Regions from separate parts of the Homo sapiens genome. Here region 2 is linked to region 1. Evidence: fine-mapped QTL for protein levels in blood plasma. A gene starts in region 1. The other region holds a variant in brackets. All regions are shown on one strand. Distances are from middle to middle. Region 1 holds the start of SERPINI1 (serpin family I member 1). Region 2 overlaps SERPINI1 (serpin family I member 1).

Region 1 (15,963 bases):
TAAGCAACCGTTGTTGGCAGAGGGCTGAATTTGGTACTAACACAGATGTCTAAGAAAAAGTCATTTTTCTAGTTGTATTTGTTTGCAAAATGATGTTTCATTATAGATTACCAAATAGTTATCCAAATTGTTACTACTTACCAAGTATGAACTATGTAAAAGGATTCTCAAAATGAATACAAACGTCAATGAAACTCAGAGTTAGCTCTAAAGATACTAAGTATCTGGTGAGAAAGATAGTATGAACTAAGTTTACTCTACACAAGGCACAGTGCTAATCATTAAGAATAATATCAGCAAGGCATGGTGGTTCACACCTGTAATCCCAATTCTTTGGGAGACCAAGGTGAGAGAATTGTTTGAGGTCAGGAGTTTGGACCAACCTGGGCAACACAGTGAGACCCTTATCTCTATAAAAAGTTAAAATTAGCTGAGCATGGTGGTTCTTGCCTGTAGTCTTAGCTACTGGGGAGTCTGCGGTGTGAGGAGTGCTTGAGCCCAGGAGTTCAAGGTTACAGTGAACTATGATCAGGTCACTGCATTCCAGCCTGGGCGACAGAGTCAGACCCTGTCTCAGAAAAAAAAAAAGGCGGCAAAAAAAAAAAGAAAAAGGCAGGTTAATTATCAGTTCTAAGCAAGCCAATTTATATAAATCAACATGAAGGTAAAAGTAAACAGAAGATAGTTAAATATGTGCTACAATTAATTTTACTACTAAAAAACTATATACAATTAACTAGAATTGTATAGGTCTTATCATAATGAAGTAAAAATTACATTAGATTCTTAATTCTAACACCAATCAGATTAATTTGTTTCTAGGTCAAATGCAAAAAACAACTAATGACCAACTCCACACATGCTTAAACAAAATCAGTCTATTTTTTTTTTGGAAGAAATAATTAGAAAAACAGAAGAGCAAATTCAGTTTTTATAGAATGAAATATGGTTTCTACAGATAAGCTTCAACAAAGGTATAACTCCAGGGCCTTGAGGTTAAATGGTGGTTGAGCCCTGGGTTTTTCTGTCTGTGAAATTAAGACCTTAAGTGCCACCAGTTGCAGACTCCTTTACCCTCGCCTATATATCCTATCTCTGAGATGAATTTAGAAATGCTGGCACTCAAATCTGTAATGTATTTGCAGCGCACACAGTGTGAATCCAATTGTGCTCAATCAACACTTTTGCAAAGGCAAACTAGCATAAAGACATTCTCAGAAGGACTAATGTGTAAGCAATCATTCTGTGAGGTCAGCTGACTCTGTCTATCAAAGCGCAAACTGTCTCAATGTGTGCATTACAGAAGTATTGTCCAATGTCCAATGGTTCTAATTCAGTAACTGGTTACTCAATTTCTTTATGCTGAATATGACATAAAGTGCTCAGGACTAACAGGAGATAGAAAAGAAGTACATGGTCTCTAAGAGTTAATAACGTAGTTACTTAAAACACACCTTCCAAATTTTAAAGACTAAATTCTTACAGGTTTAAGATTTAAAAAAAAAAAAAAAAAAGAAACAACAAAAAAATCTCTCCCTTATTTGTGTACGTTAATTCTGATCCCAAAAGCAGTGTTTAACCTTTGGAATTTGCTTAATTAAATAAATGGGCTCTTGCTCATCTTAGTGTCTGGTTCAAGTACCTTTATTATTTTAAAGGGGCAAAACATCAGTTTAGGTATTTACTTTTTGATATTTTGTCCAAATAATGTTTCACTTAGAAGTTAGTGTATACAGGTAGGATTTTTATGGTTAATAATCCATGAATATTCAAAATCTAATGAATACCAGTTTGATTCCAGTTAAAATGGCAATTGACTGGAATCAGACTGGTATTCATTAGATTTTGAATATTTATGGGTTATAAAAGCATAAAAAAGGAAGGTTAATCATCCAAAATTTATTCCAGTAAAAATTGCCATTTTAACTGGAATCAGACTGGTATTCATTGGATTTTGAATATTCAATTTTACTTAGAAAAGTAATGTATCCCAGTATGAATACAGGCCTCTACAAATTAATGACTGGGGGAGAAAAGGTCATGGAATCATGGATTATAGGAATTTAACAAAAAATATAAAATCTTTTTTCTCTTTTGCTAAAGGTGTGTTTCTCAAGTAGTTTTCTTTATATCTATTCCCCTGTATCCTTCTTTACCAAAACCATTTGATCTTGAACCTTTAAGTCTTGCTCTTTTGTGCTGCATGCATCAGTGAATCTTCCTGTTAAAAAGAAATCCATGCTAACTTATTTTTACTCAAAAGGCTTAGAATCAGAACTCTAAAGAAAAGACCAAAGGATATGGTAATTTGAAATTAACCAAGGTTTTTGGCTAAAGAACAATCATCCCCAGAGCAATTTCCATTCAAGAGAGACATTCTGCACTCTGTTGCTTTTCCTTTCTCATCATACATATTCACTGATAGCCATACACAAATAGTAAAATTAAAGAGCAAAATAAGTAATATGCTTATAACATGGGTAGCATTTTACACAGAATTATAAACTGCCATATAACGAACGTTTTCAACACCAATCAAGAAAAATCTTCAGATTACCTGAGATTGAATGTGAATATTAACTAACATGAATCAAGAGTGCAAGGTAAAAAATAAATGCCATATATTTCCAATGATATTCTCTCATATAAAAACATGGTCTTTTTTCAAATGATATTGAAACCCAATCTCTTTTACTGACACAGTAAAAAGGATCCAAATCTTGGAAACAGGTGAAAAAAATCAGTACTTTAATACCACAAACTCATTCATTCCTAATCAGATTCTATCCTTTACCGTGTCTCAGAGCAGAAGACCTATAAAGAGCTGAGATTCAAAGTATATCTTAATTTCAACTGTTTAGATATTTATCTTCTATCCATTTGCTTGCTTATTAACTGTTTCCCAATAAAACTCTTTCAAACAGATCTTTTAATAAAGGCTCGGAAAGAATTTCATTGGTAGTATTATAATTATTACATAGGGGAAATAACCCAGCGACAGCAATTATTCAGTTTTACAAAATGAATTAGTAGTAGGGTCTGAGAAAGAATCTAAGACTGATTCAAGACAATCCACTTAATCACAAATAACAAGGGCAAACACAGTCTTTTCCATGTGTCACCCTAATACCCACTTTTTTTTTTACCCCCAAAATCATTTTCACAGGGCCATATCAGCTATGTGAATTAATAGATTCTCCAGTGCTGTAGCAAAGATAAAACCTGATCCTTATAGTGGTTAAGTTTAGCAGCTACTGTTGCTTTTTCTTTCTTCTAAGCTCTTTGCTGTTTTTGATACTTAGCTGATTTGCTTAGGGGTAATTAAAAAGCAGCTGTTTTTCTATGATCTATCTGTCTATATATTTCTATGGTATGTGAGAGTGTGGGAGGGAAGAGTATACACACTGAAAAGTCACTTAGGCTTATCGGTAGTAGCACTCAGTAGGACTGAACTTTAATCTGGGAAGAGAATTCATTTGAGCCATTTCTTTTCAAAAAGAAATTTGGGATGCATTACAAAAATAAAATTTAAAATCCCGAGAACTCAGGAAAGCATAGAAATAGGAGAAAACAAGACAATTACTCCATTTTATTGACCCTGGTTATTAAAAAAAAACATAAAGTATTGAGACAGACTCTGAAATATGCAACTGTCACAATGAAAGCATTTCAGAGCAAAATTTGCTGCAATATGCTACTATGATTAAAAGCCATGTAATCTGGGAACCTCTGTAACAAAATGAAAATGAACTAGGAAAATAGCTTCTTACTACTTCTCTAAAAATAAAAGGCTGTAATTTTGTCATAATTACACAAAGGTAGGTGAGACTTTCATCTTTACCCAGCATTACAACTTATTTCCATCCATAGGTATTACAATTAACGTTGCTTTGAATGCACATATAGTTTAATACCGAGAATAAACTATTATTTTATGACACTACATGTGTTTTAAACTGAACCCACTATCATAACACATATTAAGGGTAGTCCTTCAGCACATACTCTCTACCCAGAGAAAAGATTCCCACACAGCTTTCCATGTACTCGTTTTTAAAATGTACACATATTATCGGACACAAATGAGAAACTAACGAGCAGCAGTGAGGTACACCATATGTTTCCATTGTAGGCTGAATCCAGGTCTTTGTTCCAATATTCCAGAGCCACTGGGAAGAAAGCTAACTATCCATTCATTAAAATTCATTTTTACATTATTGCTGGCAAAAGTTATACTTTTGATAGATTAAGTCAGAGCCCATCCTATCCTGACTATTCCTGCCTGCACTTGCTTCTTTAATACGGATTTCTTGCAATTCTAGGAAACTGCAAAATAACCACCCTGGATAACAGGTCGGTAGCAGGACAATCTGATAAACCAACGTAAAGGGTAGACACTGAAGAAGAATGCAAAGTTATTTTCCTAGTGAAATAGTTCAGAAGTTATTCTATATCAATAGCAAAATTTTTGCTTTTTATAGGCTACGCACCTATAACATCCACCAGATAACATCCACCTCGTCCTCAATTAGCAGGATTTTTCTCAATCTTCAGATCTCCCAGAACAGTTTTACTGGTGCAACTCAAACCAAAAACACTAACCACGCCCTTTATACCCAGAGTCAAGCTTCCTTTTGCTTTTTTGCCCTTAAAGTCGAAAAATGTAAATCTTTCACCCGAGAGGTTTTGCACCGGTTTCCTAACCCAACGCGGACTCTTTTAGCTGTGTCTTGATGTAATTCCTATTGGAAGACGTTTTCTCCAGGGCAGTGCAGACGCCCCGAAGAAGGACCCACGCTTACCTCCCACACACCTGCAACCCCTGACGGGATGCTGGAGCTTGTGCTCGGCGGACTGTGCTCCGCTCCGCTCTCGTTCCTGCTTTCGTCTCTCCCGGGAAACTACAGTCCAGACTGCGCCTCTGGCTTCTACAGGGACCCAAGCTCCGCCTCTCCCTCCTCTAGTTGGCGAATTTGGCAGCTGTTGCTCCTCCCCCTGCTGTTTCTGCAGCTGCCCGGACCGGAGGCAGCGGAAAGCAGCTGCCCTGGTACCTTTCCGCTCCCTGCACTTCTGCAGCTGCTCTGCCACTTCCACTCCCGTGGGGGTCCCTCTCCCCTCCTCTGTGGCTCACACCTGGAGCGGCCTCCTGCCCCACCCAGGCGTCTCTGCTGGGAGCCCCGGCTCAGCCTATCCTTCCCCGACCTGTGTGTCCGGATGCCCGGTGTGCCTGGGGCTTAGCTGCTCTCAGGGAAGCTGCCCCTCTGCCCAGTGCAAGTCCCCACACCAAGCCCTCCCTTCACCTGGGCGATTTCCCCGAGGCTTCCTCTCCACCCACACGGCATACTCAGCCCGACAGCCCCAGGATCCCCACCACAGGCCCCTCACCCCCTTCCTTCCTCTGCTCTGTCAGCCCGCCCCCTCAATGGGTGAGGCGCCTGCGGGGCCTACTCCGCACCCTGATTGGCGCAGGTGAGGGCTTGCCCCGCCCTTCCTCTCCTTTCCGTGCACCATCTCTCTTCATCTCACCTCCTCCCGCAAAGGCAGGGAATTCTCCTACTATTGGCTAGAAGTGTCACCACCCATCGCCTCAGGATCCCCCGCATGGCCTGCCGGGAAGTGTAGTCTTCCGATTGCAGGAATTGCGGACAACGCCGGCGAGCGGGACTACGAGTCCCCATAAGCCTCTGCACGACTCCGGCTGGGCAGGATTCCGGACAACGCCTGGTTCCTCTTGGGTCCTTCCGGCGTCGCCGGAGTGAATTGATCCGGGAGTTGAAGAGGGCTGCAAGGTGGGAAGTGAAGTCAGTGCCTCAGTTGCTGGTAAGGTGTAGCTGTTCTGTCCCAGTCCCCGTAGCTCTGCACCGAGCAGAAGAGGTCTAGGGTCACGCAGGGGCCATGGCTGAGGCACTTGGGCTTGGTTCTGGCAGGCGGAGCGGACGGGGCTGAGAGCGGGGCCCTACGGGCGTAAGCGAGGTTACCCTACGCGAGTGGCGTAAAGCGGGTTTGTAAATGCCGCCTGCCGGCTTGGGCCCGAACGCCTCCAGGAAGTCTCCTCTAGGTGGGGGCGGGAGGGGAAGGGCGAGGTTGGCCCCTGGTGCCCCGGGAGAGGGGACAGGGCGGATGTGCCTGGGGTGGGGTCCTTTGAAGGTGTGGCTTCGGACCGAGAGGTGAGGCTGCTGTTTTCCCCCTGCTTTGTAAGTAAGAGAAAAGGGAGGAGGAAGGAAAGGGTGCTTGGGAGTCGGCTCTTGGGGGTGACTCGGGTTATGCCCTTTGAGGGAAGAGGAGCACTGGAAGAAGGAAGAGACAAATGTTGGGGTCTACGGATTCAGTTCCAGTTTAATGATGTGGCCCTCTAAGGAGATAATTTTGCCTTAAACAGAAAGACTTGACCCTCTTAGGTGTCATACCTAAGGTATGTTTTTACTCCTTTACTGCTTTCAGAGCGCTTTCATTTTGGGATGCTGATGAGGAAACCGAGGGATTATATGACGTGCCCAAGGTCACACACGTAGGGACAGACTTTCTGAATCTAGTTCGGTTCGAGTCCAGCTTTAGAGTAGGGACGTTGGTTGTGCTTTTTGAAAAGGGTGGAGGAAGTTACAAAGTAAATGTATTTTATATAGTATATCTAAGAAGCCATTGTGAGATAAAAAGTTGTTTCTTGAACCGGAGTGAAATTCCTCAATAAAGGAAAGATCCTTTTGGAAAAAATAAAAATGGCCAGTTTCAACTTTTACAGATTTTTCCCCTTTTTTTAGGGGTGTATTAAATGATAGACTCTACTCTCACAGTTCATTTTTACGGGTAGGTAATAGGATGGGAGAACAACAGTTAAACAATATATCCCATCCTTAGAAGAATATTCTTTTCTTTTTCTACCTTAGGACTGTTTTTACTCTCATTTTGTAAAACTGATAATAGTGGGATTGGAATTCTTTCACAAAACTACACTTTTTTCAAATAATGTAGCGTTAGGAGAGTTTAGTGTGCCCATTACTAGAAAAGAAGGTATTTTGCATTTCTTGGAGGTAACATCGTCTTTTTTGAGACTTTACTTTTCCCCCATTTTCTTGACTCTGGGCTGTATTTGTGTGTGTGTCTGCAAATAATAAAATTGGGCTCTTGCATATTTTTATTTTTCTTAGCATCAACTGTGACTTTCAATTCATTCTTACTTTACATTGAAGAATGAAAAAACAGTACACGTATAGTTCATATCTTGCAGAAAGTAGTGCCTTTATGCAAGTCTTATCCTCTATAATGATTATGACCAGTTATAGCTCATGACTATTATTATTGGATAAGTTTTTAATAGAATTGTTAGAGTATGTTCATTGATGGCAGAATTTATTTGTGATAACTTTATATCCATACAGGTTAGCATGTAATAAATCATGGCTTACTCTTAACATGTAATAAATCATAGCTTACTGTTTTATATATAAGTTGATCATCAGACTATGCTGAATTTTGAATGTACTCTGCAGTTACTATATTATCAACAATGTGCTTCACTTTTTAATGGAAAAACATTTTTTCGGAACAGAGGTATTATCTTCCCTGATGGTTGAAATTAAGATGGTCTGGAAATTAATACGATTTTTAAAATAGAAAAAGTATGATACTATAGAATGAAGTAAAATCAGGAATAATGTACCATAAGTAATGTAGTACACAGACAAGGAAGACCCAGTTAAACAAATGGAAAATTATGTGGTGATAACTGACTTTGTGCTGGATTAAGAAAGGTGCAGTGATGTAAGTAGACCGTAAACTGAACATGAGTCAGTGATGGTAAAGCAAGAATATTAATCTGTTTTCTAGATGACAATGTAGGTATTTGCCTTTTGTTGAAGGAGGTATGAAATAAGTTCTAACCTTTGGCATGTAACTCTGTCATTATGGAAAGAGCTTTTGAACTATGAGGAAATTTTGGAAATTAGTTAATGTAATGCATTTGTTCAGTGTGTTTTAGATTTTGTTCTTGGTTCATTTCTGCCACTACTCTTTATCTCTGAGGCCAATTATAGTTTTGATATTTCTTCTATTCGGATGGTGGATTAATGTTTGTATTGTTGTTATCATCTTTCAGTCACATGCTGCGGTACTGTTGTCACTTTAGATCTCTGCACGTTGGATAATTAGGAGTTCACAGAGTTATGTGTACACGTGGTTTGCAGCTCACCAGTGTCTGCATTTCTTCTCATTTTGAACTTTGCAGGAGCCTTATGTCAGCTTTTGGACATTATTTCTTAGAGGACTTGGGATGTCTTCCGTATATTATACATCTGTCTGTTTCTCTTAAGGATGTAAGGTCTGTAAGAATAGGGGCTGTTTATTATTGTAGTCTGAGTAGGTAAGATAATATTTACAAAGAGAATGAAGAGGCTCAAGTTGGTTAAGTGACTTGTAACTGGTGGGAGTAAGACAAAATCGAGATCTTCTGACTACAGATCTTTAATATTTTGGAGTAAAGACTTAGTTCCCTTAGATTATTTACATGAGAAGAAGACTTAACGTGACTTAAATATTCAAATACTATTACCTTCTTACTCTGTTTAACACTAAAAATTTATCTCTTCTCCTATCCAGCTCTCCGTCCTTATCTCCAGCCTTTCTCATTTACCATGCCTTTCAGTTACTACATACATAAGCTGCTTCCTGACTTGGTGGCCTTTACATATTCCGTCTCACTCCTTGGACTGTTCCCCTCACGCCTACCTAAATGTGGCCACCTGGTAGTCAGTTTTCACGTCTCAATTTAAATATCGTTCGTCAGGGGAGCCTTGCCCGCCTTCCCAAAATCAGAATAGGTTTCCGCCATGTATTCACCATACTCTGTACTCCTTTGTGGCATCATCATAATAGAAACTTAATTATTTCTGTATTTATTTGACAAATACTGTCTCCTCACTGGACTATAAGCTCCCTGAGCAGGGCCCTCTCATTTGTCATGTTTTACCCCACTACTTACGCAGTACCTGGCACATTGTAAGGGTTCAGTAAATATTTGCTGAATGAATGAAGGAGTGTATTCATGCACAGTGCTTCCAGCACTTCTCTGGGGACAGAAATAGAGAAATGAATAAAGCGGATATGCTTTCTGGATTGAAGTATATAAGAACTTTCAAATGAGCCATAATGCTTAGGCAATTTAGGTTATATGTAAAGGAGTCATTGACAGAATTTTAATATAAATTGTGGAAAAATGTTTGTTCTTTTTGGAGGTCTCTGAAATCAGGATTAATTTTCTAAGTGGAAATGATAAAGGAATCACTTTCATTTGCCGCAGAATTGCTGTGTAACACAGCATTTTAGAGACTTATCACTGTCCTGCTTTTTGCAAGCGATATTCATTATAACAAAATATAGACATGGAAGAAACTTCTAATGGACTCTTCTTCCCTAATGTTGTCTCGTTTTGCCCTAAAAACCTTTATTTCCTCTAGGTAGTAGTATTAATACTGTTTTATAGCTGAAGACATCAAGAAAATAAGTAAATTTACTTATTAAACTAAAAAAAGTTTAATTAAATTGCTAGAGTTTCCAGAACGTTGGTACTGGAACCATGGTTAGAATCTGGATCTATCTCCGTATTCTAGAATCCATAATTTTTTCTTTTTCTTTGCTTTTTTGTTTTGTTTCTTGCTTTTTAACCTTGCTATCTTCCTATGAATTATACCTTTAATATCACTTGATTTAGACAAGGTGGCTTTGTAAAATTGAGTAGTTTTTGTTTCAAAGGAACTTATATTTTGGGTTTCCTGAAAATTTTTCTAATACTTTTCTAATCTTATTTGCTTTATAGCTGGAGACTTAAGCATAAAAAGATTATTTTTAAAACATACAAACTGAATTTTAGGGATAAATTGTGTTAGGTTTTGGTCTTGGAAACAAGTTCTGCAGTCATTTGTAGTACCACGGTATGGCATAGAGTAAGGTCAACAGCCCTGAGTTTCTGTAGCCTTGTATGCCTTCATGGATTTACCAGTTTACTCTTCCACAAGATCTTGTCAAAAAGAGATTGCTGATAATTTGGCTTTAAAATTTGGTAATACTATCCATTTTATTATTAAAAACAAGTCTTTGCTAAATCCTAAACTTACTTTTTAAAAAGTCAGTGTTGATGTTACTTGAATCTTGGATAAAATTTTCATATTTACCTAGCATAACCAGTATGTGGAGGATAAAACTGAAATACTGCTTTTTATATGTTGTTGGATAATTAATATCATTATGATAGGTGTTACTAAGAATTTTAAGCCACTTACATGATAAGTAATTTTTTCCATAATATAAACTGTAAAAGTGATTTAGAAGTTAAATGTCATTGTTATCTATGTTATTGCATTTGAAATATTATAGTAAGCTGCAGTGTTAGAGGGTTATGCTTTAGGGACACACACACACACACAATGCAAAAAATGAAAGCACATTTATTATAGCAATTAGAAATAATTTATGTGCTGAAAGATAAACACTGTGGTTTGATGGTTCATTTTTGTCTGTATGAAGATGGTAATTTCAATTTTGTCATTTAAGCTACAAAATTTAAATGTGTCTTAAGTGTATTATATTACACTTATTTTTCAAGCTCACCCTTACATTTTTGGTTATGTATAACCATTTTTAAAATCACCCAAAAGTGATTTTCTGCTGTTCAGTTTCATTCTTATACAGTTGATAGAATCCAGGTTGCCTATAGGGTTAAAAGAAAAAGAAAAGAATTTTATTAACAAGCTTATGAACTATTGGGTAACAGCAGTGGAACATGTTAAGTGGTAGTCACTAACATATACTTAGGCTGGTCCCTTGGGAATAAGTTTACCAGAGGTTAGTCTAAATAATGACTTTTTGATTCATTTACTTATTGAATGCATATTACTTGTGAAATTGCCTTAAACCTTCTTTGGAATGAACTGGAACCTAATATAATAGCTAGCATTTATTGAGTATTAAGTAACTAAGTGCCAAGTCTCATGCTAATAAGCATTTTACAGGATCTCTTATAATCCTTACGACAACCCTTCGAGGTAGAGGCACTATTATCTCCAGTTTTTAAATGAGGAAACTAAAGTACAGAGAGGTTAAGGAACTTGCCTACGGTTGCAGGAAAAATTGCTTGGAATTAGGATTTGAATCCAGGCTGGCTGACTCAAGAGACCATGTTTTTCATCATTATAGTAAAAATGATGTTAGTGATTGAACTGCATTGGAGAGAGAAATTAGCATTAAGAGTTGTAGTTACAGAGCAGTTATGTCTTAAATGCTAAGGTCAGTGTGGCAGGCAGAAATTACTTAATATTCAAACTTTTTAAAAAACCTATTAGGAAATACACGTTGTAGACTAACAACTTCAACACAGCCAGTTTTTTTCTAGCATTGGAGTAGATTTCTTTTGAGTACCAGGTGAAGTGTTTGACTTGTTATGCAGAGACCATATTGAAAAAAGAAATATGTATATTATAATACAAGAGTCACAATCAGTGTGGCAAGCTACTCTTTGTGAGAGCTCACTGTGGCTCTCAGTCTGGTGTGGGGAGTGGCAGATCCACGTTTCTTATCTGTCTCATTCTGGGACTTTTGCATAGGGAATGGAATTATCACATACTGCAGTAGTTATTTTTAGTGAAGTTATTTTTTTGTTTGTTTTCTTCAAACAAATGTTCACCATGTCTGTTGAACTTGCATAGGGTAGGAGTATCATGTGAAGCAGGTACGCTCCCTGGAGTGTTAATGCCAAGTGGCAGTGTGACATGTCACTGTATTTCTTTACTGTCTCTCTTCCCTGCCAAGACTACATACCTTCAAGGGTATGTGCTGTTTGACTTTTCATCACCATATCTCCAACTAACACTGTTGCTGACTTAGACTGACTATGCAGAATACTGTGTTGGATACTAGGAAATAGAGAAATGGATACAACTTCTCTTTAGGGAGTTTATACTTCAGTAGATACAAGGGGAAAGGGTTGAAAGACCATTGTATGGACATTTAGTCTTTCTAATATACTAAGTACTTCCATGTGCATCAGTTCATTTTACAATTTTAGGTTAGAGCTGATAGAAAAATAAATGATTGTTTCTCTAACTGCCATCTGGTCCCTGGCACTGAAATGGGTCTCCCTGTCTTATTCAGTCATTCTCTCTTACTTCAAGATAGACTGGAATTCAACTGAGATTGAAGTTATGGAATGACAAAACCCTAAGATGTTACACACCGGCTGCCTCCTCAGACTTATATAAGGTTACTACAACAGAAGCCAGTTGGGAATGTTAAATGAGTCAGACCTGGCCTCTAGACAGCAACTGCACCCTATACGAGTTTAGATTGTTGCTAGGCTTTTTTTCATTTAATTCCAAAGCATTTGGAATCCTTTTTTTTTTTTTATTGAGAACTGCACATCTTTCTCTATGTCTTTATCCATATTAAAATCGGTATTTATGCAGTACTGTCAAAATTTGAGAGATTTCCAAGGTTCTACCTTATTTTTGGTATGCTCCCTTAAAAAATAAATCACACTTTTGCGAAGTGAAGGTTACAGGAGGAACAGTAGATGCAGTAAAAACAGATACTATCCTAGCCCTAATTTCTTCTTGTAAGAAATAGTATTTGTATTTGAGATCAATTGGGAGCTAAAGGTAAAGTTAAATGTCATCATCAAGATAGAACCTTGGCCTCATTAGCACCTAATGTTAAATAAGGCAGAGGCTATTTATTGTCTGGGGCTAATAGTTTCTGTCAACATTTGAGTGCCCTGTGGCAGTGTTTTTGGTGCAAAGAAATTGTGTAAAGTAATGAAAGTACCTGTTGCATGTTTTAGAGGATCTTAAGCCATTAGGAGTCATTAAGTTAAATTCTAGGTATCTAAGATTATAAGTGATACAAAGCAAGTAGCTCTGATCCAGGGTGGTACAGATTCTTTTAATTGTACCTTTAAGCAGAGAGGACCTAACACTCTGAGGAATTAAGTTTAGTTGAATTTCTAAGGGATTTTAAAGGAAAGCTTTAATTAACATCGTATTGGAGAAACTAAGACAAGGAATAATACTAATAAAAAGGAAAATAGACATGTACCTCAATTAAACACCAAACAACTATTCAACTAGGCATTATTCATGAACCATTAGGTTGAGAACTTTATGGGCAAAAGATGAACATATTCAAGGGGACAGATTTGTTTCCTGTCTTCCAACAAGTGTTTTCATTTAAATTTTACTCAGATCAGAATTTACCAAAAATTTAGACATAGGAAAAAAAAATGAGGATTGTCACAACTAAAGAGATGTATGTTTTTCCCCCTGAACAAGTTGCTTTGAAATATCGTAGGAGCCAATTGTTACTATTTTGTTACTGTTTCCATTTCCCATCAGCTAATTCTGAGGTAATGAGCTCTTTAATTTTGTTGTCAACTTTTGATTATCTTGTACAGATTATAAACCTTTTATGAATTATCTCAAGGGCTTTGATCACATCTTGATTTCAGTGTGCAACCCAGCCTGCTACCCAGCCTGCTTCTGGGCCATGGTTTCCTTTGTTAAGTTTATCTATGTACATTTAGAAAAGTAATTTTAACATTGGTTTGGCAAAAAGTTTTAAAATGCACCTGATGGCCAAATTCTTTTATGTAAGCCAAAACTAAGTGTATTTATGCATCCATTTTGGCAAATGGGAGATAAAAGGTTTTGAAAATATGCTATGTAGGTGGCCTTTATGACATTGTGATATCAGTGTTTGACTCTCATTGTGTATGTTATGCAGGGGCAGGACTAGGGTGAGGCAAGAGATATGCCTAGGGTACAAACTTTGAAGAAGCACTAACTCTCTCAGTCATGCAAATCAGAGCAAAATTTTGTGTTCTAGGCATCTGGTTTGCCTCACCCTAGTTGCAATCGATTCCATGTCAGGTTCCTAGAATTTTGGCTAAAATATTAATAACAATATGAATAGAATGGTTATTATGTGTTAGCCACTGTAGTAACTATTTTATATGCAGTTAGTACTCTTAATCTGGGGAAGTGAGTACTTCAGTATTTCTGTTTCTCACTAGTTTAGAAATAGAGATTTACAAAACTGAAATGATAGCATCCAGCTGAGCAAAAATTCAAACTGAGGTTTTTTTCCTTCCAAACTGAGCACTATCTCCTGCTGTATACTGTCTATCTATGTGTAGAAAAAGTTACTTCTTACCCATTTTATAAATTTCTGTATTAAGAAACAGTACTCTGGCCAGGCACAGTGGCTCACGCCTGTAATCCCAGCACTTTGGGAGGCTGAGGCGGGTGGATCACCTGAGGTCAGGAGTTTGAAACCAAACTGACCAACATGGTGAAACCCCCATCTCTACTAAAAATACAAAATAGCCAGGCGTGGTGGCAGGTGCCTATAATCCCAGTACTCGAGAGGCTGAGGAAGGGGAATCGCTTGAACCTGGGTGGAGGTACGCCACTGCACCCCAGCCTGGGTGACAGAGTGAAACTCTGTCTCAAAAAAAAAAAAAAAAAAAAAAAACAGTACTCTACAAAATATGTAAGTGCATACACTTGACATGGTGCAGTTAACTTTTAAGATGAGCTGGAAGTCTCAGCAGCACCAAGTTGAAGATCCACAAGCTTGTGCTGCTAAGTACCCTAGAGTTGTCAGACATATTAAAGAAGAAACCAAAGGATAGAGAGGTGAAATGACTTGTTCAGAGACAAAGATAGTTTATGAATGACAGGACCAGAATTTGAGCCCATGCTTTGAGACTTTAAATGCTTATGCTTTTTCCCTGTATCTTTCTGCACAAATTGTCCATTTAATATTTTTAAAGCATATATATATATATATATATATATATATATATATATATATATATATATAAACGATACAATGGTAAAGTGCTATATACACTTACCATTAACAAGAGATTGCTTCTAGATGTCCCTAAGTGTAAAATTCTGTAAGTACTAAACTGACAGTAGTGTATGTTCAGGGAGGTTAGGTTCCACTTAACTTTATTAAGAAAACTGGAAATGGAAGACATTGAATTATAGAAGATGTAATTTGCAAGTCAAGGAGAGAGATGTAGGTATATCCTTAAGACATCAAGCTCATTTTACTCTAAGTAGGATCACTGACTTACCCTATTCCTCTGCCTCCCTTTTTCCTAGCTTTCTCCTCTAAATCTTGGTCTCTTGTTTGGAAGTGACTAACAGCATTTTGGCATGAGAAAGCCCTAAAAAGGTACGTAAACTGTGTCAGCAAATGTTAACCCCACCCCGCTTTGTTAAATGGCCAGACTACCATCTATACAGTCTTTGTAAAAATCCATTTTCTCTAAGAGTTTGATGAGTGATTTTTTTTTTTTTTTTTTTTTTTTTCTTTTTTGAGACAGAGTCTCGCTCTGTTGCCCAGGCTGGAGTGCAGTGGCACGATCTCGACTCACTGCAACTTCCGCCTTCCAGGTCCAAGCAATTCCCTTGCCTCAGCCTCCTGAGTAGCTGGGACTACAGAAGCCCACCACCGCATCTGGCTAGTTTATGTATTTTTAGTAGAGATGGGGTTTCACCATATTAGCCAGGCTGGTCTTGAACTCCTGACCTCAAGTGATCCACCTGCCTTGGCCTCCCAAAGTGCTGGGATTACAGGCATGAGCCACCGTGCCCAGCTGATGAGTATGATTCTCTGTGTTATATTATTGAGAGAAAGCAAGGAATTGTCAGTTAATTGAAATCCTGGGTTAACCAACTCTTGGGGAGGACCTCCTTAATTAGAATTTGTAAATAATTTTTAATGATTTGATGCTTAAAGAAAAATTTGTCTTAAAGAAATTCCTATTAGATTACTTTGGAAAGTATAGCTGATAACAATAATGAAGTCTTATTATCACTGAATTTTGGTTCCAGTGATAATGTGGCTGGGTCCAGGCTTTGTTAATAGAATTAATTTGATTTTTGTGTTTGTTTTTATTTTGCTAGGCAT
Region 2 (15,963 bases), 17 kb before region 1:
CAATCTCCGCCTCCTGGGTTCAAGTGATTCTTCTGCCTCAGCCTCCCGAGTAGCTGGGATTACAGGCGCAGGCCACCAAGCTCAGCTAATTTTTGTATTTGTATTAGAGATGGGATTTTGCCATGTTAGTCAGGCTGGTCTCAAACCCCTGAACTCAAGTGATCTGCCTGCCTCAACCTCCCGAAGTGCTAGGATTATAGGCATGAGCCACCACACCCAGCCACAGTTAGGAACATTTATATCCCTGGTTCATTTGAATATACAGAGGCCAACACGGAGTATGATTACAAGTTCAATGACTATATCTAATAGTGTAATATATATTTTGTGTGTGTGTGTGTGTGTGTGAGAGAGAGAGAGATCTCACTAATTGAGGCTCCTTTAAAAACGAGAATACTTTTTGAAAACAGGTAACATTAACGTTCATTATGATTTGTATAACAGAAATTCCTATGTAACACCAAGGAGATCATATTAATTCCTTTACTCATGTTTGTTTATAAAATCATTTATTAATTCATCATGCAAATTCGTATTTTCAGTGTTTAATACATCCCAAGCACTGCACAAACACCACGGATATAAGCAACCATTATACACTGCCTTCAGTGACCTTGCAGTTTAGTGTGAGGTCCTTTCAAAAGCTGGTCTTAGAAAAAGCTCTAGGCTTCATCAGTAAAACAGGAGGGTTGGTCTTTGATCTTTCAGATTCCTTCCAGCACTAAAGTCATTTGATACTGTGATTAACTAACTTGATTATTTAAAGGTTGCTGTTCAATGTGCCTTTCCCTAAAAATATCCTAATCAGTAATAGATGCACTTTTCTCTCTTTAATAAATCCTTTGTAGCTGTTTTATTACTCACTGAATTTCACAGAATTGATTCCCTACAGGCAGAAAACCTCATTTACATAGAGTCACTAAGTCTATTTTTTACATGGTGGCTTAGACTTGTGACATAACGAAGAGTCAGCTGAGACGCAGAATACATTATTTATAAAGTCTGAAGCAGAAAGTTGGTTGCATATTGTAGATACTTAGATGTTCTGGTCTTCTTTGGATTAATGGAAATCAAATAGCTAATCTAAATAACTGCAGTGGTGGACTAGAAATTGCTTTTATGGCATGACTGCCATAGTCATTACAAGGGGCATATGCTTATATATATTTTTCAAAAAAAAAGATGACTTATCTTTTAACTAATGGCTAGACATGTTTATTTGGAAGTTTAATTACAAAAGCAATTTTAGGGCTGGGTGTTGCGGCTTATGCCTGTAATTCCAGCACTTTGGGAGGCTGAGGTGGGTGGATCACTTGAGTAGGGGAGTTCAAGACCAGCCTGAGTAACATGGTGAAACTCTATCTCTACTAAAAAACAAAAACAAAAACAAAAACAAAGATGAATGTGGTGGTGCATGCCTGTAGTCCCAGCTACTTGGGAGGCTGAGATGGGAGGATGACCTGAGCCTGGGAGGTCAAGGCTGCAGTGAGCTGAGATCACACCACTGTACTCTAGCCTGGGCAAGCAGAGTGAGACATTGTCTCAAAAAATGTGGGGGTTGGGTCAGGATGGTGGGAGAAATTGTAAAATTATGGGAAATAAACACAAAACTTCTTGGAAGGCCTGGGGGTTTACATAGCTTCAGTAAAGTGTTTGACTGAAAGCAGCTGAATTATCTTAAAAGCATAGGGCATGGATACCTAGGAATGTAGAGGAGTTTATCTAAATAACTTGTTTACTCATGTGGTCCTAAAACTAACCTTTGATCATTCGTGGGCAGGATGGCTCTCTGGGGTTGGGGGCAGGGGTCAGGGGGTGGGGAGAGTGACCAGGTTAATTAGCCTCTAGTGGTGCTGACTCAAAGCCTTTGTCATTTAATGTGTGCTGAATAAATGTCGGAGGAGCCAGCTAGTCAGGGTCATGGCTGCTACATCTCTTTCAGTCAGCGGCCTGGTCCCCTAGCCAACTCTTTCACTGAATATCAGTGTCTGAGTACGTTATTCATCCGTCATGCAGCTGGGGTCTGCAGGACGGACCACAGCCAAAAAAAAAAAAAAAAAAAAATCAGCAACACCTACTTGTTTTAATAGCTAATAATATAGGCTTTAGGTTTACAAAGCTAAACTATTTCAGTAGTACCAGAATCTGAGAGATTACAGAAGAAAGTGAAAAACAAATGAAAACAAAGACATTTTTAAAAGACTATGCCATAATACCAAGGTCACATTTTACATTTATTGTAATTTCAAGTATGAACAGTCAGTGATTTTGATCTTCATTTTACAAGGTTCCAGTACCAACCACAGCCTTCTTATGGTTTCCTCTCTCTGAATTGCTTAACCTAAAATAACAAATATTTTTACAAAGTATAGCTCTATCTTAATGGGCCCTTTTGAAGTACTATAAGACCATCATCTATTTCCTTGAAACAAGAACTTATTTTTACCAGTAAGTTCCTTTTAAAATATTGAATCTACCAGTATCCTTGGTCACTTGCCTACTCCAAATCAGGAGTGAATGTGCACTGCTGGTGAAATCTGAAATGACTTTAAAAGGAGGTCCATTTGGAGTGATCGTGATAATGCCATGTGCTTTCTTTCAGAGTTTCTTAATTAGGAAGTGCTTCCAAACTACCATCCTGAAATAGGTCATGGATTAATATGCATGATTCTTTCCCATACAGCTAAACTTAAAAAAATGTAGTTGTGGAGTTATATCTTAATGCTTACAATGAGAGCTATGGCCCAGTAACCTGGTAGGATTGTTGAAAGACTGGAATAAAAGTCAAGAAGGAATGGGATTTGTTGAATGAATGTTTTGATCAGACAGCAGAACAGTTCATTGAGCTGCATGAGGCTGCAGGAAGGAGCTATCAAAGATATCTGTGAACAGCAGGAAAGAAAGAAAGAAGGAAGAGGAGGCCAACTAGGTGGTCAGTTAATAGGGAATGAAAAAGTGCTAGCAGGGATCCAAGAAGCAAGCACCTACTCAGGGTTGGGTAGGACATGGACAAAAATAGCTTGAACCTGAACTCCATGGTGGACACGCAGACCAGCAAAGATTGAGAACTCCTGAAGTGGAAGAAAATGAAAGGATTTACCTGGATGAATCTGGAAATCCTATAGTGTGGCAGTTCTGCTATAACCAAATAATGCAGTTGTATTCAATCAACTTCCCTTCTGGATTATACCTCTAACAGAAGTTTTTCTTCTAGTGGATTTATCTGATTAGTGACACTTCCAGTATGTTCCAAGGACGTGAAAATTCAGATTTTGCACTGTGGATTTCCTTATGGCCAAGTCATAAACATTAATGTTATTCTTTGTTGACATTTAGAATATTCAAATTTGAACAGTGTACATATACTAAAGAAAGCACAGATAATAGAATCTGTAAATTATGAAAATGTATGTGCCACAGAAGTAGGACACTTAAAGTTGCTTATTTTTGTTGTATACAATCAAAATGCTTGTAAACATTTTACAATTATAGATCAATGGAGGGCTTTAAGAGACACTTTCATCTATTCCAGTTGCTGAAGATGCATCTCTGTAGCCCAGGGTCTAGCTGTGTGTAATGTGTGGTTCAATTGGTTGGTGAATTTTCACTTCCCCTATTTCTGGGATTTGTGACAGCCTGTGGTGATTCTGACCTTTATTCCTTTATCCCTCCTGGATTTCATGCCTAATTAACCAGTATAAAAATGAATACAGAGCTCACAAATTCTTAAACTGGATAAAACAAAGGTAAATGTGGCATAACTGCATCTCTTCCAACCAGTTACTGGGAGTATAAATATTTCCCTTGAAAAAGCAGCTTGAAGTAAGGTTAATACATGATTTTGGAGAATAAGAAATCTACTCCTCTCCCCCTTTTAAAAAACATTAAGGGCTAGCAAATGCCTTTAAAATTGAATCCAAGGTAATATATCCAGAGAGACACTCTATCAAGCACACATTCTGATATTTCTTACCAGAAGAGAGACAGTAGCATCACTATATAATTATTTCACAGTTCCTTTTTTAATATACATTCTTTAGCCTAACAACACTGATAGTCTTCTGATATACAGTTCTCCTTTATTAGCTATTATTCTTGTGACATTGGTTCTAGGCAAGATTTAGACATATTTTCCTTAATCTTTGCTTTAGCACACCTGAGGAATATGATATATTCTTCATGAAAAATAGCCAGTCTGTAGTAGGCACTGGACATGAAGTATAAGTTTAGGTAGTTTGAAAAAAGGCCACAGGGGTAAGTTTAAGATACCCACCTCACTGCTCCCCACCCCCAATCTTCATAGGGTCCCAAGGCCTCTGAGAATCACTCTTGTAAAAAATGTGAGAATTATGTTTTGAAAAACCCACTAGGGTTTCTGGCATTATTGAGTACCTGCTATACATTAGATGCTTCCTATATTTTCTTTATTTACCACCCTTATAGTTTCATGAGAAAGGAACTTTGTGAAAGAGGAAACAGTTCATTTACTCAACAAATATTTATTGAACATCCCTAATTATCAAGCACTTTTCTGGGCACTGGGAATAGAGCAGTGCCCTCTACACAAAATAGACAAAATAACTGCTTTGAGAAAGCTTACAATCTAGGGGCTCAGAAAAGTCACCCAAAACAAAGATGGGATTTGAAACCATACCACATTTCCAAAAGCCCCTCACATCCTCCTCTGAACATCTGGCTTTCCTCAAGCATCGACATCCAATATAGACTATACTTTTCATTTCAAGCAGAGAGCATCCACTGTGTACTGGGCCCTGGACATGGAGGTGAAAGCAGCAGACAAGGGCTCTGCCTTCACAGAGCTTACATTAAACGAACACACATGCATTAAAGCACCTAGTTGAAAACTGTGTTAAGTGCAATGAATAAAAAGTAATAGTGTGTCACATAAAAGAATAACAGGGACCTATTTTAGATTAAGGAGAGAATCAGGGAAGGCCTCTCTAAGCAAGTGTTATTTAAGTTGAGACATGAGGATAAATAAGAGTTAAGGAGGGAAGCAGTATTCCAGACAGAGGGAATAATATGAAGGCCTGATGGCAGAAAAGAGCTCTGTGATTAAAGAACTGAAATAATACAATGAACAAAGGAAAAGAAGAGGCTGGCTTATGAGGTAGGGGCTAGGTTATCTAGGCCCTTGTAAGCAGCAAGGATGTTGCATTTTCTCCTAAACACAGTATAATTTATAAAGTTATACAGGAGAGAGTATGGGGAGTCTCAAGCAGAAGCTGAAGAAGAAATTGGGTGGTTATTGTAACAATCCAGGTGAGAGAAGATAGTTGACTATGGGGGTTGCAATGAAGATAGAAAAGGGATAGTTAGATTATGGATAGACTTATTTAAAAAATAAATTGGACAAGACAGAGGTAACAGTAAGGAAGGGCGAGTCAGGATTACTCCCAGGTTTAAACTCAGCCAGCTGGGTAGGTAGGTGGAGCTGTCCTTCATTAAGATGGAGAAGGCTGGAACAAAAGCAGAGAGGGGTGAGATAGGGGATCATGAATTTTGCTTTGGATAGGTAAATCTGAGGTGCCCATGAGACATCCACTTGGAGAGTTAAGAAAGTAGTTAGATAAATAAGGTCAGAGTTCAGAGTGTAGGTCTGGGTTAGAGATACATTTAGGAGTTATGAGCACATTTGGATTAGAGTTTTTGGGGAGTGTGGAGAAGAGGTGCCCTATGGCCAAGCTCTGGGAAACCCAAACACATGCAAGACTTAGGAGGATGAAGAGAGAAAATGACCTTCCTTGAGAGCTCAGGGTCTGGCAGAAAGCAGGAACACAATGCATGTTTATTACTAATCTCAAAACAAACCTGTATTTCAGTTTCTCTTGAAAAACATTTTCCCCATTTGGCATAACTATTGTATTAGGTTGAACCATATAAATTACCTTTTTTTGGTAGGTCAAAAATAGTCAAATGTTGGCAATTTCACAAAGTTTAATTTCATACAACACAATTTGAAACAAAATCCATTTATATTGTGGGACAGTATACAGTTTTAAAATGTCACTTCACACATGAAGGAGAATCACTAATATTGGAGGCTTTATTATCGTACATGAAAAAGATACTAGATACCGTACTGGAAAAGATATTAGAACAAATCATACATAACGCTGCATATGATGTACCAATTAGTTTCATCCTGACAGTTGAGTTGACAGCCTGAAAATGCCATTGACAACCCATCACCATTTGTGTCGATAACCTCAACACTATTCTCTGATAAATCTATATATTTAGCGGAGTAATTTAACACATCTCAAATTTTTCATCTGGCTTAAGAAAAATCTCTTATTTCCTATTCCTTTCCATGTGGAGAAAACATTTAAAGGAAGTTAACAGATACGGTTGACTGCTTAATAATTTAATCTTTGCTTATAGAGACTAAGCTTTGAAAAACTATTCTGATACAGTTTGACTTACTTTGTGTAATTACAGGGCTACCTCATTTTATCAAGTAGACATATTCCAAAAACTATGTTAATAATTCAATAGCATATTTTAAATTTACCAAGGTGCTCATGATTGAAAGTTCTGACAAACTCAGAAGTCTGCAGTTTCTTAGCAGATAATATAAATGTGTGAATTGGTCCAGTATAATGGAGAATAGAGGAGTCTGCGGTAACTGAAGAGGATATTCCTTACCTAAAGAAAATCTTTTTTTTCCTAACATAATAAACTCTGCAAAACATAATTTAGCTGGCAGGAGGTGAGACAGAAAGATTTCAGTCTGTCAAACTGCCAGTTTGAAATGCCTAATTTAAAGTAAGCTTGCCGTGGATTTTCTATTCTTTTTTTAATATTATCATGAAACATTCTCTAGTTTTTGTCTGAAGTTAGAGTTTTTATATATTGATTTTATTATTTTTATAGGGTTTAGATATGTAATTGCAGCTGTCTAATTTTTTAAGAATGCAAGAGAATTCATAGTTGAAGAATGCAAGGTACAATATACAAATACTGTGAAGTAAATATGGACAATTCCATAGAAATACACAAAGTATTCTGGTTACTTCTGAGATCATAATTATATTGCAGAACTATGTTTTGGCTGGAAACAAATGCAAACTAGGTACTGTGTGGTGATACCTGAAATAACCTATATGATTTTCTATGCCCCACTTTCCTCATCTATGAAATGAGAATTATGATAGTACTTGTCTCATACGATTGTCATAAAAATTAAGGGTGATAATGTATGGATGTAAAGATATTAGTGCTTAGGTCACAGTAAAAAGTTCAGTCTCAGAAACAGTGAAGCAGTTCTGGATTTCCTTCTAGACAACACCCACTGCCTCCTGTAAACCTTTCACTTTCTCTTCACATACTAATAATAGCCTTCACATGATACACAAATAAGCATCACGAACACGTGATGGCAAACCCATTGCTCCATGTTGCCTTTTCTATTTCATTAATTTCTATGTGCAGTCATCTTGTTCTTACTTTCCCAAGCTACACTGCATGGCTGAAAAAATATTTCTCATAGAGCTTGCTAAATTCAACCTGGGAAGAAGATATGTTACATAATGTGTAATTAATCATTTCATATGCACATTTCTGAAACAGACATTTCAGTGCTGTCATTTTAGATATTTGGGTAACATATACATGTAGTGACATCCAGAAAAAAAAGCAAAGCTTTGGTTTCTTTAATTTCTCTGAAAATAAGTCATCCCGGCTGGGTGTTTTATCAATAGCTGTGAATTTACTTTTTAAGCACCGAAATTTATTTTTATTTTACCCATTTGCATGAAACTTTAACAAAATATATAATTCACTTAGTTTTTCCAGAAAAGTGGAAATGTAACAATTAATCCTCTTTCTTATGCCTGAAGGTCATTTTTTAAAACTTTCTGGCTCTGTCCTTCATTCACCCAGCCAGTATCTACTGAGCACTACATACTGCCCCACAGCTTATGTCTCTGCACTTCTCTGAGGTCAAGACATGAACCCTTCCGGCACCTATGCTTTCTTAGTTTCTTAGCTTTTTTCCCCTCTCATCTTTTGTTTATATTGAGTCACTGTTAATTTGTCTAAACATATAAACAGCATTCAATAGTAAATTAAACAGTTTATTAACAGTAAACAGGTTCTGCATAAAGGCTAATGGATAAATAAGGTGAATTTCACAGCAAGGAATTTGGCTGGGTTTGTAAGCTTATTTCCTGCATTCTAAGGTGTGTTACAGTGGAAATTCTGGATCCTTTTAATAAATGAGATATTCCTGTTAAAGTTTCTCATTTATAAGTCATTCTAAAAAGAAGAAAAGAGAACACTACTTAAAATATCAGTTGGTGCACTATTAGATTTAAAGTGAGACTGGGTTTATGGTTTTAAGTCATCAGCCTTATAGTCACAATTGTCTTGTATAAAGATAGCAATTACTGTACTGTAGCTTGTCATGTATGGTTAATGGTCCTCAGTGATGGATTATTCATGCCAGGCAGCTAGCTGAACATTATGTTTTAATGATGGTAAAAAGCATAGATGTCTTCATATGTTTTGTGGATGTTGAGAAGGAGTCAAACCAAAAAATAAAATGTTCCCATTAGGGTAAGGTAAGACATAAAAGGAACATTGTATGAGAGTAAACTAGAGCAAAAAAACACAAACAAAAATTTAAGACACAGAAGAGAGGAAATGAGATTCAGTATTTTAATGAAAGTTGACTTCCTTAATCATAAAAGCAAGGGGATAATTTCAAAATAGTGATATATCAATATCTCAGTGAGTAATTTTTAATAACATGAAGCAAACTGAATGTACATAAATATAATCCTTGTAAAGATTTAAATGCTTTACGTTTTCAGCTCATTTACAACGGTTACATTTTGAATTATTACAATTATTCTTTCTTTTCCTGCTGCTTGACTCAAAACTTACTCCTCTTCATCAGTTTCTCCCGTATCCCAAACTAGTGGTAACAAACCCAAATGCCTACAGAGGCCAGGGAGGCTGGGAAAATGACCAAAAAGAGCTCAGTGTAAGACAACAGAGCATGGTACTCATTGTGGAGAACTGGTATTTAGATACAGTTAACACACACACACACACACACACACACACACACACACACACAGAGTAACACACTCTGTCTTACCTGTGTGCTGACTGCTGACCTATTTTGTAATCCCTGAGCTAATTCAGGGACAAAACTAGTTGATTTCATACTCAAATTCCCTCAAATCCGCATCATCAATGCTACCACCTCTGAGACGTTGTCATCTCCATTTCTTCCAAAGTCCATTTTTATCCCTTCCTTATTTTTAATGTTGCATGACTATTTACTTTTTCCCTCTTGAATCAAGATCTGGCACCAAAGGCCATGTTTACAGTTCTTTTTCAGACTGGTTTAGCGACGTTAGTTCTATGTGACTGACATAAATAGGCTCATGGCTATTCAGTCTTCACTATGCATTACACCTTTATCAATATAAATTACCTTCCTTGACCTTAAAGGTTTTGCCTCGAATTCTGCCTTGTCTTATACAAATATAGCTGCCTTACATTTTAAAACTTATTTTTGTCTATTTATTGCTTCATCATCCTTTTACTTTAAACTAGTATTCTTTTGCTTAACTTCCTGTCTTTTAAATATTAAATAGTTTGACTTTTTTTTTCTATCCAGTATGATGGATTTTGTGTTTCACTAATGGACTAAAGCTGTTGATAACTGCAATATATTTGTTTAGTATTTGTCATTCTATCTTAAAGTTCTAGTTTTTTCTTTTTGTTTTGATCACACTTTTTTGTTCCTAAGTATTATATTTTCTGAGTGAAAAATAAGATATAAAGAAGTATTAAGATAAGCTGATATTTCCGCCTCCTTTATTTTTATCTGCTTAAAGTTGCTTAGGCTTTTTCCTTGCCTTCATTTTGAAATTAAAAAAAAAACAACAAAACACAAAAAAACTTTAACAAAGTGTGGGTAGGTCTTAGTTTCTCTTCACTAATTTTTCATGGTGTTCTGTGAGGCCAAGTGATGTAGAATGAATTTTTTATTCTACATTACTTTTTATCTGCTAGTCTGGGTTCCTCATAATTCTATCTTCCATAACTCCTATTTTTAAAAGTTTTAAATATTATATTCACTTAAAAAGCAGGTTTATTAAAATATAGTTCGCATATCATAAAATGTACCCTTTTAAGGTGTATAATCTAGTGTTTTGTTGTTGTTGTTGTTGTTTTGAGACGTAGTCTCGCTCTGTCGCCCAGGCTGGAGTGCAGTGGCAAGATCTCGGCTCACTGCAAGTTCCGCCTCCCGGGTTCACGCCATTCTCCTGCCTCAGCCTCTCGAGTAGCTGGAACCACAGGCGCCCGCTGCCACGCCCAGCTAATTTTCTGTATTTTCAGTAGAAACAGAGTTTCACCGTGTTAGCCAGGATGGTTTCGATCTCCTGACCTCGTGATCCGCCTGCCTCGGCCTCCCAAAGTGCTGGGATTACAGGCTTGAGCCACCGTGCCCGGCCAATCTAGTGGTTTTTAAGAAGTTCATCAAGCTGTGCAGCCATCACCAAGATCTAATTTTAGACCATTTCATCACCCCAGAAAGAAACCCCATAACTATTTGCAGTCACTTCCTATTCCCCTTTGTCCCTTACTAGTAATCTACTTTGTGTCTTTATGGATTTGCCTATTCTAGATATTTCACATAAAATGTGGCCTGCTGTGTTTGGTGTTTTTGCTTAATATGCTTTCAAGGGCCATCCATGCTGTAGTATCAGTACCTCATTCCTTTTAATCGTCAAATAATATTCCACTGGATGGCTATACAACATTGTGTTTATCCATTCATTAACTGACAAACATTGGATTGTTTCCACTTTTATGAATAATGCTGTTATGAACACCTGTGGATGTTTTTGTGTAGACAAACATTTTTTCAACTCTTTTCGGCATATACCTACAGTGGAACTGCTGGGTCATAGGCTAACTCTGTGGCTAATATTTTGAAGAATGGCTAAACTGTTTTCCAAAGTGACAGCATCATTTACAATCTCACCAAAACCTTATGAGTTTCAAAAAATATTATGAGGGTTCAAATATTCCCACATCCTCACCAGTACTTTTTATTGTTACAGGTGTCTGTCTCTTTGACTTTAGTCAT[C/T]CTAGTTTGTGTGAAGTAGTAGCTCACTGTGGTTTTGATTTGCATTTCCCTAGTGTCTAATAATGCTCTGTATTTATTCATATGCTTCCTGGATTTTTACATCTTGTTTGGAGGAAGAAATGTCTATTCATATCCTTTGCCTACTTTTAATTGCATTGTTTTAAATTGTTGAATTATAAGTTATTTATGAGCTCTGCATATAAGGTTCTTCTCAAATGCCTGATTTGCAAATATTTTCTCCCATTATATGGCTTATCTTTTCAACTCGTGTCCTTTGAAACACAAAAGTTTTAAGTTTGATGAAGTCCAATTTGTTTTTATTATGTCTCTTGTACTTTTGGTGTCATATCTAAGAAACTACTGTATAATGCATGGTAATAATTTACTCCTGTTTTAAGTTTTATAGTTATAGCTCTTACATTTAGGCCTGTAATCCATTTTAAGTAACACTTCTGTATATGGTGTGAGGTAGAGCCCAATTTTATTTTTTTCCATGTAGATATCCAGTTGCCTCGGTATCATGTGTTAAATATCCTTCCCCATTAAACTGTCTCAGCACCCTGTTGAAAATCAATTGACTGAAAATGTAAAGAATTATTTCCTGACTCTGAATTCTGTTCCACTGACACATACATCTGGGTTCCTTGCATTTCTATGTGAGTCCTAAGTTCAACTTGTCAATTGCTGCAAAAAAAGTGGCTGACATTTTGATTCATTAAATCTGCATATTAATTTGGAGAATACTGCCATCCCAACAATATTAAGTCTTTCAACTCATGAACATGAGATACTTTTCAATTTACTTAGGTCTTCTTTAATTTCTTTGTGATGTTTTGTACATCATTTGGTGTTTTTGTTGTAAAATTCTTGCATTTTTGTTAAATTCATTCCTTGGTATTTTATTTCCTTTTTATGCTGTTTTAAGTGGATCTTAAAATTTTGATTTTGGATATTCACTGTTAGTGTATAAAAATACAATTAGTTTCTTTATATCGATCTTCTATCCTGCAACCTTGGTGAACCTGTTTATTAGTTCTAATAGTTTTTCATGTGGATTCTTTAGGATTTTCTATATACAAGACCAATTCATATGTGAATAGAAATTTATTTCTTCCTTTCTAGTATGGGAGCTTTTTATTTTTCTTGCCTAATTTCCCTGGCTAGAACCTTCAATACAGTGTTGAATAAAAGTGTGAGAGCTGACATCCTTGACTTATTCCTGATCTTAAAGGGAAATATTCAGACTTTCACTACCAAATGTTAGCTATGTTTTTTAAAAAAATTATTTATGTTTTCTGTAGATGTACTTACCCCGTGGAGGAAGTTTCTTTTTACTCCTAGTTTGTTAAATGTTTTTATCATGAAAGTGTGTTTTGCCAAATATTTTTCTTCTTCAATTGAGATAATTATGTGTCTTTTATTTCATTGATATAGTATGTAATGCTAATTGATTTTCATGTTAAACCAACCTTTATTCCTGGAATAAAACTTACTGGATCATGGTATATAATTCTTTTGTTGCCAGATTTGGTTGCTAGTATTTTGTTGAGCATTTTTGAGTCTATATTTGAATTTTCTATTTCTTAAGTTGGTCTCAGTAGTTTGTGTCTTTCTAGCAATTTGTTCACTTCATCTAGGTTATCTAATCTTTTGCCATACAATTGTTCATAGTGTTCTCCAACAATACTTTTATTTATGTAAGATTGGTAGTGATGTCTCCTCTTTACTATATTAGGTTCCCCTACCCTTAAATATAATTTTCTTCTAAATTCTGAGAAAGTATCTTAACTTATAAAAAACTGACTGGCTTGGCACCCTTCAATACTCAATAAGCTATTCAGTTGATATATATATATTTATATATATATATAACTATAGTTATATATAATATATATATTATATATATAACTATATTTATATATTATATATATATATAACCATAGTTATATATAATATATATTTAATATATAAATATAGTTATATATAATATATATATTTATATATTTATATATATTTTATATATATTTATATATGTTTATATATATATTTATATATATATTTTTATATTTATATATATTTATATATAAATATAAAATATTTAAATATAGTTATATATATAAAAAATAACAATATAGTTAAAATATTAACTATATTTTAAAGTGTAGCATTACTTTTTCCATACACTTAGGTCATTTGGCTCTTAATCTTACTGTCCTAGTACAATATTCTGTGCAACTCTTCTAAATTTCTCACAATTAGATGATACCCTTCCTAGTGTCCTGAACATTATTTTAGCAGTTTGAAGAGGAGTTAAAATGAGAGCTTCAAATCCCTATTTGAGTAAAAAAAGTTATAGTTCACTTACAAAATAAATTATCATAAAATAAAACCTAACGTTTAATAAAATAACATTTAATGAGCATTTACTACACGCCAGTTACTGTGTAATGCACTCTGTGTAAAATCTCATTATGTCAACATAAACAACCTTTGAGTAAAGTTACATATCACAAAACCAAAGTTTAGAGAGATTAAGTAACATACTGAATATCATATAGCTAATGATTATGGAACAAAAATTTGAACTCAGTTTTGTCTGACTGTAGAGCTGACATTCTTAACCAGTGTTTGACAAATTTTTTTAAAAGGGCCAGATAGGAAATACTTTAGTCTTGTGGTTCACGTCTTCATTGCAATGACTCAACTCTGCTGTTGTACCGAGAAGGCAGCCTTAATAAGATGTAAATGAATGGGCATGGTTGTGTTACAATAAAACTTTATTTATAAAACAAGGTAGTGTGACTGTAGGCCCTAGCTTGCCATCCCCTGCAATTAACCAACATACCAGCTGCCCTAATTCTTCCTTAAAGCCTTTCCTGATTACCACATAGACCAATTTCTTCTCCTTCTGGCTTTCTACAATAGTAACTGCTGTAATATCATAGCCTTAAGTCATATATCCTTGTTGTAATGTAAATGTGTCTTCCAATGCCTTCTTTTATTAACTATATTGACAAAAGATTATGCCAGACAGTAATTTTATATATTTTGTTATATTCCCCTATAGAATCCAAACTCACACTAGAGATTGTTTGTAGAAGAGTTTAGAAATTTACACGTGACTCTTATCTGGAAAGCTTTATCCCGATAAAGCCATTCACCTAGGGTAACATGATAGAAATGTAAAAATCAGGCAGTAAAAATGTTGATATAGAAATGCAAAGACAACTACAATTTTGCCAAGTCAGTATCTTTGATTATGAGAGTTTTATAGGCAGAGAAAAAAATTAATGTACTTATTTACATTTTCTCAATTTCAATTTTCTTCTCAGACTTTCCTACCTCAAGGAATCATAATTCACCAAAACCATGAGTATCAAAGTGTCACTGTATGAATGAGTCATAATTTAGGTAATAATCACTCTATAGATGTTCATATTTTTCACATTTTTGAAATGGATAATAACACCATTTTCTAGGGTAATAAATTTTTAGAGTAGGCTCTCCTCTAGGGAATAATGGCTTATTTTGCTTTTTCAGGCAGCTAAGAAAATCTTCATAAAAGAAATCCTAATACTCAATTTTTCTTGTATTTGTATTATACCCATATTTTTTAATGCAGTCTATATGGAGAGATTACTGAATATTTTTAGATTTAAAGCAGATTTATTATAGAACCATCAAGTTTTACGAAAAGTGTTTGTAATGCAAAGTATAGGAAAAATATTAGATGCAATATTAGCTAGATGGCCTTTTAACTGGAGATACCATCAGTTTCTGAGGAATGCCTTTGCTCAGGGACTTAAAATTTGGAAATCACTGAAGTGAACACTTGGTATGGGAAGGTTAGAGTTGCTAAACTTCTACACACACACACACACACACACACACACACACACACACACAAAACGGCACAAAATTGATAACAATGAGAAGAAATAAAATTTAAAATAAACATGGTTTTAGTCATCAGACTATGGCTGAAACTACTGACAGTTATCCAAAAGTCATTCTCAAACCTTTGTTCCCCTGCTCCATCTACCACAGAAGCCAAAAGTCTTTGATATCTCCACTTCCATTAAAGCTAGGGCAGCCATATGACATGAGCCAGTTAGTGCACAGTGGACATCTGCCGGGGATCTTTGGGAAAGCTTTTATTTCCTGATTAAAAGAGAAAGACTCAACAGGAACAACTGTTTCTCATTCTTCCTTCTTTGAATGACAGTGTGATATCTGGATCAACAGAGGCATCTGTCTTACAGCAAGCACAAGAGAAATCACAAGGACAAAATTCTGACAACATCGAGCCTGTAAACAAAAAGCAAACAACTACTCTCCTCAGACTTCTTGTTCTGGAAAAATAAATCCCTATTGTTTTATCTCATTGTGCATAAAACTTGTAGCTGAAAGCGTTTCTAGTTGATCTGTACTTTACAATTATTTTTTAAATTGTTAATCACTTTTGGGCCATGCAATGTGAGGAAAAATTTGCTTTTAAGATAATCCTGGATAAGATTTCTTTCTCTCCTTTTCAAAATGTTCAATTTTATATTACTAATTATTAATTAAATCTGCTATTATATTAACAAATAGCTATTATTTACACCTTTAAAGTTATTGGCATTTTAAATTTTTTTCCTTATTTATTTTTTAAATTTTAAGGCTTTTTCTTCTTATCTAGATAACTAGTTATTTGCATTTTTAAAAGAACATATCAGAAACTCTGAAATACAAAAACAAACTTTGTTGCCTTAGATTTAGTTAATATACCTTGTGCACAAAATCTCATAATATAATTTTTTTAAAAGTTTCGTAATTTACCAAAGCCA

Evidence for each region. A credible set is the group of variants that fine-mapping cannot tell apart. PIP is the chance, under the fine-mapping model, that this variant and not a neighbour inherited with it causes the effect. Protein levels are from antibody-based Olink assays in UK Biobank. Linkage for the fine-mapping came from a reference panel and not from the study's own genotypes, which makes the PIPs less certain.
Region 2: its variant is the best candidate, but not a certain one, in a credible set for the plasma level of the SERPINI1 protein (UK Biobank, PIP 0.58).

What each region holds. Positions count from the first base shown.
Region 1 is chr3:167,724,663-167,740,625 of GRCh38, reverse strand. SERPINI1 (serpin family I member 1) reads right to left here and starts at 4,905. Exons shown (of 9, transcript NM_001122752.2): 1 at 4,803-4,905. PDCD10 (programmed cell death 10) reads left to right here and starts at 5,734. Exons shown (of 9, transcript NM_007217.4): 1 at 5,734-5,964; 2 at 6,276-6,412. RefSeq lists an enhancer at 5,483-5,922 and a silencer at 5,973-6,102.
Region 2 is chr3:167,741,896-167,757,858 of GRCh38, reverse strand. All of the region lies in intron 1 of SERPINI1 (serpin family I member 1), which reads right to left. Among named protein-coding and RNA genes, the nearest start is that of SERPINI1, 14 kb to the right of the region's middle. RefSeq lists an enhancer at 7,251-7,370. The variant C/T (reference allele first, on the strand shown) is at 11,135.